Homo sapiens: one gene and its partner. The protein of the gene in region 2 interacts with the protein of the main gene of each other region in a pairwise test. Each region holds a gene or a part of one and is shown on either strand. Other genes may lie near its edges.

The links. The genes of interacting proteins can lie anywhere in the genome.
Region 1: the proteins of UBXN8 (region 2) and PGRMC2 interact in binary tests that used the Homo sapiens proteins (3 or more experiments, as listed by UniProt).

Annotation. Positions count from the first base shown.
Region 1 is NC_000004.12:128,277,643-128,281,313, reverse strand, and holds part of PGRMC2 (membrane-associated progesterone receptor component 2), read left to right. Parts: intron 1-3,671. UniProt on the Homo sapiens protein: Required for the maintenance of uterine histoarchitecture and normal female reproductive lifespan. May serve as a universal non-classical progesterone receptor in the uterus.
Region 2 is NC_000008.11:30,747,034-30,750,704, forward strand, and holds part of UBXN8 (UBX domain-containing protein 8), read left to right. Parts: intron 1-3,671. UniProt on the Homo sapiens protein: Involved in endoplasmic reticulum-associated degradation (ERAD) for misfolded lumenal proteins, possibly by tethering VCP to the endoplasmic reticulum membrane. May play a role in reproduction.

The sequences.
Region 1 (3,671 bases), on a different chromosome or scaffold from region 2:
TGACAGATTATTTCTTAATAAATAAGCAAAACTGCCATGACTACAAATATGGATAGTATCCCCTGCGTTGTACATAGTCATATGTTGAGGCCCTGGTTAGAAAGCTTTAACTCTGATTCCTCCCCCATCCTGTTTTCCACAGTATCACTATTAGACTTTAGCTTCACTTTGTTTTTTCAAACTCCACCCCAAAATTGATGAAATTATTATCTTTTTAATATAGTCCTTGTTTAAATTTACTAACATGGTTATCATTTTTTTAATTCACTGTTGTTTCTTGCATCTCATTTCTTTGGGGTTCACTTTTTATTTTAGTGAGGTGTGTCCTATAGTTTTTCACTGGCAGGAAAAAATTTTTTATTTTTCCTCACTCAGGAATAATAGTTTGGGTTTAGAATATAAAATTGTAGATTGGGCCAGGCGCAGTGGCTCATGCCTATAATCCTACCATTTTTGGGAGACCAAGGTGGGAGGACTGCTTGAGCCCAGCAGTTCAAGACTAGCCTGGGCAATATGGCGAGACTCTGTCTCTTACAAAAATATAAAAAATTAGCTAGGCATAGTGACATGCACCTGTGGCCCCAGCTACTCAAGAGTCTGAGGTATTAAGATCGCTTGAGCCCAGAAGATCAATGAGCCTTGATAACACCACTGCACTCAACCTGGGTGACAGAGCAAGACCCTGTCTCAAAAAAAAATGTAAATTGACCTTATTATACCTCAACTCTTGAGTAGCGTTATGCCACTGTCTTCCACTTGTTGGTGAGGAGTCGGCTTGTAGTTTCTCTTTACTTTTATTAATCTTTTTCTTCCTTTTGGTTGTAGTTGAGATCTTTTTGTCTTTGGGGTTTTGCTATTTTACTAGGATTTGTCCAGGTATGGATTTGATTTTATTTACCATGTACCAAACTCTACTCAAGTCTGTGGATATATTGTCCTTTTTTTTTTTTTTTTTTTTTTCCCAGAAAATTTGCTGTTACTTATTGCCTCTTCCATTATCTCTGTTCCTTCCTCTGGAACTGTTAATAGATATACATTAGGTTTTCATTCTATTCTTAATGTCTCTTAATCTTTCCTTTTGTACCATTTCTTAATAATTTTAAGCAAATTTACTTTAGTTCTTTAATCTGCTTCTGTATCTGTTATATGTGCCCACTCCTCCATGATGGTTTGTTTCTTCATGTAGTTTATATTTTTTATTGTGAACTTATTATCTTCAGTAGTTACTTTTTTTAATTTTGGAGTATTTCCTGTAAAATTCCATGAGCCCTAAGTTGTGAAAGAGGTAAAGTGCTTTGGGTATGTTGCAAAATAGGGCCTCACGTAAGTTAAAACAATGATTTTTTAAATTAAGTAATACATGCTCAAAATAGAAAATTCAAAAGGATATACAGTGAAAAATAAGTCTACTTCCCACAACTAGTCCCAGCCACCATGTTCCCTTCCATAGCAGCAAAGCACCAGTCTACGTATTGTTCTAGAGCTATTTTGGGTGCAAGTACAAGCATGTGGATATCTTCCTTTCCCCCCACACTAATTATAGTATACTATGCATACCCTTCACAATATTTTAATATCACAAGAGCCTTTGACATCAGTATAGAGAGCCATCTTATTCTTTTGAATACATGCATAATATTCTATTTTATGAATAAGTCATAATTTAACAGTCCACTGTTAACATTTGTTTTCAGTCTCCTGTTATTGCATGATGCTGCAATAAATATGTACATGTCATTTTACACATGTGTGTAAAATTATGATTATAAAGTAAATTCCTGGAAATAAAATTACCGAGGCTTGGGGTATGGATATTTTTAATTTGGATTCTTGTTTCTAAACTGCCCTTCAGAGAGGTTGGACCAATTTACACTTGATGAAAATGCCTGTTTCTCACTTCTTGCCAAAAACGTGGTATTAAGCTTCTTGGTCTTTGTCACTCTTGAGAGGTTAAAATGGTATCTCAATATTTGTTTAAATTTACATTTCTCATTTACTTAATGAGGTTGGACTTCTTTTTAAAAAGTTGAGTCATTTATGATGCCTTTTCTACAAATTGTTTATTCATATATCCTTTGCCACAGTTTTTCTCTTTTTTTTTTTTTGAGACAGAGTTTCACTCTTGTTGCCCAGGCTGGAGTGCAATGATGCAATCTCGGCTCACTGCAACCTCTGCCTGCTGGGTTCAAGCGATTCTCCTGCCTCAGCCTCCCGAGTAGCTGGGATTGCAGGCATGCGCCACGACACCCAGCTAATTTTGTATTTTTAGTAGAGACGGGGTTTCTCCATGTTGGTCAGTCTGGTCTCGAACTCCTGACCTCGGGCAATCCGCCCACCTCAGCCTCCCAAAGTGCTGAGATTACAGGCATGAGCCACTGCGCCCAGCCCTGCTGCAGTTTTTCAATCATCATATTGATCGTACAGATTTTAGGTGTTCTTTATAAAGTAAATCAGCCTTTGCCGCAAATATTTTTTCTAGTTTGTCCTTTTACTTATTTATGGTGTTTTTTTGAACCACACAAAGTTTTGGTTTTATGTATTCAAATTTATCTTTTCTTTTATAGCTGCTAAGTTATGTATTATATTTAAAGACTTTATGCACTTAAAATTGTTTTTAAAAATCTGTAGTTTTTTTAGTACTTCTGTGGTCTCAGTTTTTTAGTTCCATTTGAAATTGATTTTGCTTTAAGATGTGAAATTAGAGTCCAAATTTGGTGGGGTGGTGGGTGTTTGTTTGTTTTTGAGAAGGAATCTTGCTCTGTCACCCAGGCTAGAGTGCAGTGGCGCCATCTCGGCTCACTGCAACCTGCGTATCCCGGGTTCAAGCGATTCTCCTGCCTCAGCCTCTTGAGTAACCGGGATTACAGGCGCCCACCACCGTGCCCGGCTAATTTTTATATTTTTAGTATAAGAGACAGGGTTTCACCATCTTGGCCAGGTTGGTCTCAAACTCCTGACCTCGTGATCTACCCGCCTTGGCCTCCCAAGGGGTTGTGTTTTTTAACAGAAGGTTATCTAGTTGTCCCAACATGTTTCCCCAACAGGGGAATAATCCCTTTTTCCTAATACTTGAAGTATTATCTTTAGTGTTCATTAATTCTTATAGATATTTGAGTTCATACTATTTTTTCACCTTGGAATTTTCATTCTGCATGGGTTGCATAAACTCAGGCCCCACTCCCATAAGTGGCACGGGCCTGGGCTTTTAATTTTTCTGTCTTTTCTTTACCCCAGCCTACCCATGCACCCTGGAGTTAAGGCCATATGCTCAGTTCACAATGTTGCTGAGCGCTTTTGACAGTAGCTCAAATTTCAGAAGCAAGATTGCACTTTCAGTCACTTATAGAATCATACTATTCAAGAGATTATTTAGTTTGGTCTCAACTTCAGGCAGGTAAAATAATTTTCCTAATTTATATTTGAGGGATCTAAGGACTATGGAAATCGAGACTTGTTGATTGTGAGTGGATCCTCTAGAACCCAAGTATCTGTCTTCTTGAGAGGTATTATTTCAGTTTTACCATACTGCATTCTCTCTAAAAGTCTTGGGACTTACTGGACCTAAGCATAAAAAAATTTATTAGTTCAGTTAATCACTTTTACATATTGCCTCATTTGTTGATAGGCTGATTATAATCTTATTTGAAATAAATTACCCAATACTAAGTGTT
Region 2 (3,671 bases):
AGTCCCAGCTTCTTGGGAGGCTGAGGCAGGAGAATCGCTGGAACCCGGGAGGTGGAGGTTGCAGTGAGCCGAGATCACACCACTGCACTCCAGCCTGGCAACAGAGTGAGATTCCATCTCAAAACAAAAACAAAAACGAAAAAACCTTAAAATTTTTTTTCTTTAAAGGTATACACACAAATATAGTTCTTTCATATTCTCATGTGATGTTTGCAAATTGCTTGTTAGAACGAACAGCAGTAGTATGGAACATAAATCCCACACCTCAGTGGTGTTTTTTTTTTTTTTTTTTTTTGAGACAGAGTCTTACTCTGTTGCCCACGCAGGAGTGCAGTGGCACAATCTCTGCTCACTGCAACCTCCGCCTCCCAGGTCCAAGCCATTATCCTGCCTCAGCCTCCCAACTAGCTGGGATTACTGGTGTGCACCACTGTGCCTGGCTAATGTTTGTATTTTTAGTAGAGACGGGGTTTCACCATGTTGCCCAGGCTGGTTACAAACTCCTGAGTTCAAGTGATCCACTCACCTCAGCTTCTCAAAGTGCTGGGATTATAGACGTGAGCCACTGCGCCTGGCCTCAATGGTTTCTTTACATACCAATACTCTAGATATTAAACTACTTTTGTATTGGCCAGAGATAAAATAGATTAAATTATGTGTTGTATTGAATAACACCTGAATCAACAGTTAATACTGGCAAGTTGGAGGAGCCGTGATTTTTTTTTTAAAGTCATACTTCTTCTCTAAGCAACTTTAAATTGCTAGGGTTTTTAAAGAATATTGGGCCAAGCAAGGTGGCTCATGCCTGTAATCCCAGCACTTTGGGAGGCCAAGTTTTCTTTTTTTAATATATATTTTTTCTTTTTTTTTTTTTTTTTTTTTTTTGCTACCTTTGGATTCTTGATAGTGAGCTTCCAATAATTATTTCTTAACAGCATTTAAGTCTGATTTACACATCATACTTTATACCAGCAGCAGGGCTGGTTATGCCTGTACTAATATTCAGACATATATTGAAAAACTAGCCTTGTCTTTTTCTACTGTGTAAAAACCTTTATTGTCAATACATTTTACTTGTACTTAAGCTAAATTTTTTTTCTTTTTTTTTTTGAGATGGAGTCTCACTCTGTCACCCAGGCTGGAGCGCAGTGGTGCAGTCTCAGCTCACTGCAACTTCCGCCTTCTGGGTTCAAGTGATTCTCCTGCCTCAGCCTCCTGAGTAGCTGGGACTACAGGCATGAACCACCATGCCCAAGAAAGGAGGATCATTTGGAAAAAATATATATATATTATCTGATGGCCCACATCTGTGGTCCCAGCTACTTGGGAGGCTGACATGGGACGACTGCTTGAGCCCTGGAGGTTGTGGCTGCAGTGAGCTGTTATCAACTGCTGCACTCCAGCCTGGGCAAGAGAGTGAGAGGCCATCTGAAAGAAAAAAAAAAAAAAGGCAAGAATATACATCTATCTGTTTTCAGTTTAAAATAAAACATTTAAGTCTATATATGTTTTTTTCTTTTTTTTTGAGACAGAGTTTCACTCTGTTGCCCAGGCTAGAGTGCAATGGCATGATCTCTGCTCACTGCATCCTCTACCTCCCAGGTTCAAGTGATTCTCCTGCCTCAGCCTCCCAAGTGTCTGGTATTACAGGCACCCACCATCATGCCTGGCTAATTTTTGTATTTTGGTAGAGATGGAGGTTTCACCGTGTTGGCCAGGTTGGTCTTAAAGTCCTGACCTCAGGTGATCCACCCGCCTTGGCCTCCCAAAGTGCTGGGATTACAGGCATGAGCCATCTCGCCCGGCCTATATATATGTTTTTCTGATTCCTTCTTTAAGTTTTAGTTAATTGACTAATTACCAGCCTTGATCACGTTGGATTCCTCTGTATCTCTGCCATTTATCTTTTGAAAATTAAAAACACAAAACGAGTAAAAATTCCAAGAGGATGGAAATCATTTTTAACCCAGCTTTGTTTCCTGTCCCTCAACATTTGCCAAATTGTATTATGCAAAGTAGGTAGTTAGATTTCTGCTCAAATAATTTTCACTTTGGTTCTTAATATAACACCAAATACTGGCTGGGTGCGGTGGCTCATGCCTGTAATCCCAGCACTTTGGGAGGCTGAGGCCAGCGGATCACCTGAGGTCAGGAGTTTGAGACCAGCCTGTCCAACGTGGTGAAACCCCATCTCTACTGAAAATACAAAACTAGCCAGGCATGGTGGTGCATGCCTGTAGTCCCAGCTACCCAGGAGGCTGAGGCAGGAGAATAGCTGGAACCCAGGAGGCAGAGGTTGCAGTGAGCCAAGATTGCGCCACTGCACTCCAGCCTGAGCAACAGACTGAGGCTCCGTCTCAAAAAAAAAAAATAAAATAAATAAATAAATAAATAGACCAAATACTATATTTTTACTTTTTCCTCCGCAAGCATGTAAATCGTAATTTTACTTACAAGTGACTAAATGTCAAGAAATAAAGAAGCACACAGTTGCACAATTTGTGAGAAATAAGAATTTGGTGTTTCAGTGAGATTATCATAGAACTAGAATTTGACACGATATTTTCTTTTTTTCTTTTTTTTTTTTTTTGAGACAGAGTCTCTCTCTGTCGCCCAGGCTGGAGTGCCATGGCACGATCTTGGCTCACTGCAAGCTCTGCCTCACAGGTTCATGACATTTTCCTGCCTCAGCCTCCCAAGTAGCTGGGACTACAGGTACCCGCCACCGCGCCCAGCTAATTTTTTGTATTTTTATTAGAGACAGGGTTTCACCGTGATAGCCAGGATGGTCTGGATCTCCTGACCTCTGATCTGCCTGCCTCGGCCTCCCAAAGTGCTGGGATTACAGGTGTGAGCCACCACACCTGACCAACACGATGATATTTTCAGTTTTATTTCTAGTTATGTAATTTTCTCTATATGGGAAACTACAACTTATACATTACTGATATTCATAATATAGTGTAGCTGATCGCTCTAATTGTAACTGTATTCCCAAGATAGTGTTTATTCTAGAATTATGCTCTGTACATTTGTTCTGGAAATGACAACCATCATGAGTTTTTTAATGCCCAAAGGAGAGTACAGTAAACCCTCTGTATCCCTGAGTTCCACATTGAGCATTTAAGCACCTGTGGATTGAGACTATTCAGAAAGGGCTGGGTGTGGTGGCTCACACCTACAATCCCAGGACCTTGGGAGGCCGAGGCGAGCAGATTGCCCGTGTTCAGGAGCTCAAGACCAGCCTGGACAACATGGCGAGACCCCATCTCTACAAAAAATACAGAAATTAGCCGGGTGTGGTGGTACGTGCCTGTAGTCCCAGCTACTTGGGGGCACTAAGGCAGGAGGCCCTCCTTGAGCCCCAGGAGGTTGAGGCTGCAGTGAGCCGTGGTCTCACCATTGCACTCCAGCAGCCTGGGTGGCAGAGCAAGACCAAGAAGAGCAACACCCTGTCGGCCGGGCACGGTGGCTCACGCTTGTAATCCCAGAACTTTGGCAGGCTGAGGCGGGCGGATCATGAGGTCAGGAGATCGGGACCATCCTGGCTAACATGGTGAAACCCCGTCTCTACTAAAAAATACAAAAAATTAGCCAGGCGTGGTGGCAGGCACCTGTAGTCCCAGCTACTCGGGAGGCTGAAGCAGGAGAATGGCATGAACCTGGGAGGC